Linked DNA regions of Homo sapiens: region 1 is linked to region 2. The links come from fine-mapping of genetic effects on gene expression. A gene starts in region 2. The other region holds a variant in brackets. All regions are shown on one strand. Distances are between the middles of the regions. Region 1 overlaps WDPCP (WD repeat containing planar cell polarity effector). Region 2 holds the start of OTX1 (orthodenticle homeobox 1).

What was found.
Region 1: its variant is fine-mapped to the expression of OTX1 in whole blood (TOPMed, PIP above 0.99).

Annotation. Positions count from the first base shown.
Region 1 is chr2:63,345,371-63,348,278 of GRCh38, reverse strand. The region is part of intron 12 of WDPCP (WD repeat containing planar cell polarity effector); the gene reads left to right. Among named protein-coding and RNA genes, the nearest start is that of WDPCP, 240 kb to the left of the region's middle. The variant C/G (reference allele first, on the strand shown) is at 1,639.
Region 2 is chr2:63,049,294-63,052,201 of GRCh38, reverse strand. OTX1 (orthodenticle homeobox 1) reads right to left here and starts at 1,372. Exons shown (of 5, transcript NM_014562.4): 1 at 1,305-1,372; 2 at 885-953. RefSeq lists a silencer at 1,347-2,006 and enhancers at 2,123-2,870, 2,871-2,908, 2,234-2,908.

The sequences.
Region 1 (2,908 bases), 300 kb before region 2:
GAGTCAAACACAACTAAGTTTGAATCCCAGCTTCCTAATTTATTGGATGGGTAACTTTGGGTGAGTTACTTAAGCTATTACTATTATTTCCATCTTTATAGATGAAGAACTTACCAAACTTTAATTAAATGCCAAGATTATAAATAATAAATAATAAAGTGACTAGCATGTATTAAGTACTTTGTAAGTGATAGCTATTATCATTGTGTTTGTGGCTATCTCGCCTACTAGACTGAGTTTCTTAAGGTGAGAAAGACTAATGTCATTAGTTTTTCTAAACTTTTTAGTCCTACCACAGGACATCAAGCATTAGGGGATTTTGAAAATACCCTATAAAAGTAAATGTAGTTATAGCTGACATCTAGCTGATGATAACTTTTGAATGATACTAATTTTAAAACTTGCAAGGTCCAAAATGACAGAAGTTTAGGTCCCTAACATATAAGTCAAAGAGGGGGCTGGCATTAGGGAGGGCCACAATCAAAAGTCAGGGCCATAGCTGGGACTCAATAAAGCTCAGATGAATATCCAGTCGGGGGCGGGGGGGGCAATTTCCCCCTCTCAGAAGTTATTTCTTCAACACCCAATGACCCCCCCACAAAAACAGCCCAACATGGGAGCTACTTGATCATTCTTTTTCCATGACTACAACATGGCATTTCTAATCTTGAATTCTGAAAACCAAAGAACCAGATCTAAAGAAGGATCTATAAGCCTGGGGCAAATACTTAATTCTTTTCCAATGACAGTAGAGCAACACTATGGTAAAGAGTGTGAGTTTTGGAGCAAGACTGCCAGGCTCCATGTCCTACTATGCAATTGAGTAGCTATGGGAGCTTGGACAAGTTAAGGGTTGCCAGATTTAGCAAAAATACAGAATGCCCAGTTAAGTCTGAATTTCAGATAATAAATAATTGTTTCATATAAGTATGTCCCAAATATTGTATCAGATATACTTATAATCAAAAATTATTATTCATCTGAAGTTCAAATATAACTAGGTGTCTTGTGTTTCACCTGGCAACTCTTATTTAACATCTCTGTACTTGAGTTTTCTCATCAGTTGAATGGGGATAATAGTACTACCAATTTAACAGGGCTGTTGTCAAGATTAAATGAATTAATATATGTAAGGTACTTAAAATAGTAACTAGTACACAGAAGATCCTAATAAATATTACCTGTTGTTGTTACTGTGGCTATTGTTGTTAGGGTTGTAATATTTAATGAAAATATTATTTGAGAGTTCCTGCTTTCAGCTATGATAATTATTTGGAAACAGACTGACCCTCTTGCCATAGACAATTATTAAACTGGACAAAATGCACTGAAAATTTGTCTTTAGATATTAAAAGATTGACAGTATAGGACTCTGATCCCTGAGAATTAAAAACAAATGAGGTCAACCTTATGATCCTCTGGTTTTATGATGAGAGGCACTTTCTAGACCAGAGAGCAAAGAGAGGGAATGCAAGTGGAACATGGCAGTTTTTTGAGTTAGTTGGAGTTCAGGGAAGATGAGGCAGCTTGAATTTGCAGGTTTGTGTACTGGAGAGGCAGGTGCTTTGTGGAGAAAGAGCTCCATAAATCTACATAAGAGTCACCTTGAGTCTTTGGCTGAACTCTGAGCTATGCATT[C/G]ATAGAGTGAGATGACTTGAGGCTAGGAAAAGAACAATAACAGGCAGTTCCATGTCTCCCAGAAAGGGAGCTGCCCTAGAATCCCTGCTGGGGATTGGCTGGGAGCAGCCTGTGGGAATTATATGTTCTGTGCAGATGCACTAATGGATTTCAGACCATAGCAGCCAGGGCTGCTGGTCTATTTTGTTGAATGAAGTCAGAAATCTGAGGGGTGCATTCTCAAGATCTCCACTATCCACCTATTGGCTGAATAGGTCTACTTTTCCACATAGGCTCAGCTATTCCATAGTAACTGAGGGGAGGTGAAATGGGAGGTTCATAATATAAACTGAACCCACTGTCACTGCATCTCATCTCGGCTTCAGATGATTCTTACTCTCCCTGCTATGCTTTCCATTTTTTCTTGTGCCATAACAATTGGGGTATTTCACTTCATTGAGTATTGGACATTACTTTTTCCAGGCATCTAAGAGCCATTCCAGCAGCAATTAGCTCCATCTCTTGGGCTCCTCAGTAAGGTGTTAAATCCTGTGTCCTGAAAAAGTACCTCCACATAAATGGACTCTTACCCAGTTTTCCATTCCAGCTCCCATGTTCAAGCATCCTCTTAATCCAATCCGAGAGGTGCTCCCCTATTTTTGCTGGCACATAGTGTCGAATTCTTGCAACTCTTTAGTTGTATAGTCTCCTACCTTATCAGGTTCATCATGTCCCCAGCTGGATTGTGCTGAGATTTGACTGTAGTTATCAGCCTGGCAGCCAGGATAAAGGTAGAGGCATTTCCTGAGAGAGGGGAGTAGGTACTACATTGTGGGGAAAGGTCTCTGAGCTTCTTCTAGTACAGTGGAGTGCTGGCTCAGATTCAAGAGTTCTGCAGTATCAGAATACTCAAGGGCATCTATTCAGAGGTACCCATTTCATATTTCAGGATTCCAAGTGTTACTAAGCAGTTCCCTGACTTTAGTAAAGCAGACCTGCCTTGATGTTGCATCTTAACATCTCTAGAGTTCTGATCAACAATTAGATCTTCTACTTGTCTACTATGTCTGCCCTTCAAATTAAGAAGATAAGAACCTCTGTGAGCTACCAGAGAGATTCTCTGTCACATTTAGTCATTACCTGTAAATAGCACTCAGTCTTTCACTAGCCTTCCTGAAAGCATATACAGCTTAGTAGCAATCAGCAAATTCCACTGACTTAGTGAGACTTGCCTATCTGTGTCCTGCCAACTGCATGTACTGCAGAGCGGTTCTACAGAAAGGGCACTGGG
Region 2 (2,908 bases):
GCGACCCCAAGATGCGGCCTGAGGTCGGGAGCGCCTCAGCTGCGGCCAGCGTCCTTCGTTGCCAGCGCGCACCCGGCCTTCTCTCTGCCCAGTCTGGGCTGCGGACCGCAGGGTCCCAGCAGGGGGTGAAGGGTGACTGGCCTAGCACCTCAAAGGGTCTCGGGGATTTGTGAAGCCGGAGGGCAGCAAGTCGCGTGCTGCCATCCTTGTAGCTGAACCCGCGGCCCCAGGACACGGTCGAGAACAGAGAACTAGGCCTCAGCGGCGTAGCCCACGCAGACCCGAGCTGGGAGGTCGAAGCCTCGCCCCCGCCGCTGCCGGGAACCCGGGGTGCCACTCTCAGGGGTCAGGGAGGGGCGCTGGAAACTGGGCCTGGGGCCCTGGGGGGCCATCGCTACACCCCGCTTAGCGGGATCGCTGTGAAGCAAGCCAGGGACTCGGGCTAGGACGTTCAAGGAGAGAAGTTAGAGCTAAAGAAGCTCCCCCCAGCCCCGTTCCCGCCCCCGTCTTCTGGGACCCAAGACCTGGGCTGAGGGAGTCCAGCTTGTAGGAAGGGGACCGGAAGGGAAGCAGCCAGGGCTCTAGGGCCGAAGGAAAATGGGACTCAAAGCTGCGACGGCTTTGCGAAGCTGCAGCGTGAGTTTTCAAAGACTTTCTCCAAACTTAGCACTTCAGCTTGGTTACTTCGGAGGAGGCGGGGGAGGGGGCTGCGGGCCGCGACAGCGCCCCGGGGTCCTCGGCTCACCAAGAGGGGAGCCAGGCCGCTCCCACAGCCCCGACCACCTGCTGGGGACCGGGGAAGCCGGGATCCATTTGAGGAGGGGGAGATAAGGGTAACCAACGCGCTCCCGGAGTCCGGGGTGGCCCCGCGGCTTTCTCCTTACCTGCCCTCAGCTGCCGGGGCCGTTCACCATCTACCTGGATCTCTCACAGAGACCCGCCGGGCAGCCAACCTGCAAAACAGAGCAGCACTGGAATTACCCTGGCGGCTGGTCTAGGACCCCCAGGTTTCTTTCTTTTCCCAACTTCCTTCTTCCCACCTCTATCTTTTTTTTCAATGGCTTTGTGCGTGTCCTTCTGGGTTTCACTTTATTGCACAGACACTTTGTTTGCTAAGCCCCACACGTTCTCAGGACATTGCCTCGCCTGGGATCGCGCCGAGGGGCCGCAAGGGGGGGAATTCGAGGGGCAGAGTTGGGAGGTGGCTCGGCGTTGCCGCGGCACTCCCGGTGCAACGTGGAGGCAGTGGGGACTGGGAAGTCCTGCAGAGTCACTTTGCAAACTAAATAAATCAAGCGATTTACCTTGTCGGAGTGGCTTGTCTTGCTCGGTTGTTTAGGTGATTGGAAATGTAGCCTGATGAAGATTGATCACCTTTCTACTGCCCTCCCCGGGTATGTGAACGCGAGGCGAGTGCGTAACGGGGCTAGGCCGCCAATCGGGGGCCCCGCGCGGGCTGAGTGACAGGGAGCCGGGCAATGGCTGCGCGAGCCGGGGGTTACCTCCGCGCGCCCCCGCCCTCCCCCGCCCCCCACACCCCGCCCTCCCCGCCCTCCCGCCCCGCCCCGGTCGCGCGCTAACTCCGGGACTCGGCTGGCAAAAGCGGCGCAGAGCTAGGCGAGGAAGGCGAGCGGAGAGCCCGAGTCCTGGCCGCGGAGGGGGCCGTGGGTCTCCAGGCCTGCCCTGGGCGCCCCCGCCCTTCTCGCGCTCTCGGCGCTCCGGAGGGAGTGGCAGGGAGGAGGCGAGGTGCTGGAGAACCGGTTCCTTCGCTCTCCCGCGCGCTACAGGGCTCAGCCGCTCGGGTGTGGGCGCCAGGACCCGGGGGCGGCGGGCTGGAGGAGCCCGGGCCTCGGCCCCTCTCCCGGCGCCGCGGGCCCCAGCGTTTTCTTCCCCGGCGCCGCCACCTGAGACCGACGCCGCGGGCTGCTCGTGCCGGCGCAGGCTACTTTGCAGAGCGCGGGAGCAGCTCCGGGCGTGCAGATCTCTCCTCGGCCCCTCCGGACTCTCGCGCCTGGGAAGAGCACCCACTGGGAGGGCGCCGCCACTTACCTGCTTGCTCGTCGGCATCTCCCGGGGTTCCAGGTCCCCACCAAGGGTGTTTGCAAGTCTTAAGCGCTTCTACTGAAACGTTGGAGCCCAGCGTCCTCTTCCCCTCACACGTACACCCTACTTCTTAATTGAAACATTTTGATAGGAAAGTTTCTTTTTCGCTCTTTCTCTCTCTTTCTTAGACTGCCTCTAACAGGGACTTTTTGATGGAAAATGTGGCCACAGACCCCTGCCCTCAACTTTTTTCCACATGCTGCGTAAGGATCCTCCTTGAGGCGATTTCCCCGGATTGTTCGTACGGGCGAAGCCCATTTCCCACCCGAAAAAACTTCCCAAACACGTCTACCTGGGTGGACTTTTAAAAGTGCAAAAAAGAGTTTTCGTTCCAACTCTAAGCTAGGCGAATCTTTTAAATGGCACCTCCTCCTGAAAATTAGGCACTTTATTCCCTTTCGAGGAATTTCTACCCCTTGTTTCTAATCTCCCCCACTCCCCCACCCCGACAGGCGGGGTAAAAAGTTTGCACAGGATTAAGTGTGAGGGCAAGTCAAGGAGCCTCCAGGCGCATCGCAGTGGGGAGCACTCGCGCTGCCCGGGCTGCGGGGTCGGGCGCCGAGAGCGGACCGGGCGCTGGGTGAGGAGGAGGAGAACGAAGGGGGAGCCCGCTGAGTGAAAAGGGGCCGCGGCCGCCGCTCATCAAAGTGCTTCCCCCTCCCCCAAGCGACACTTTCCTTTGGAGTCCGAATAAAATACGGTAACAGAATATGATGGAGGGCACACTGTTTCCTTAACTGCTTCTCAAAGGACCCGGGAGATCTTCTTAGGACCTTTAATAAGGCTTTGGTCGGTTCTTTTGTTG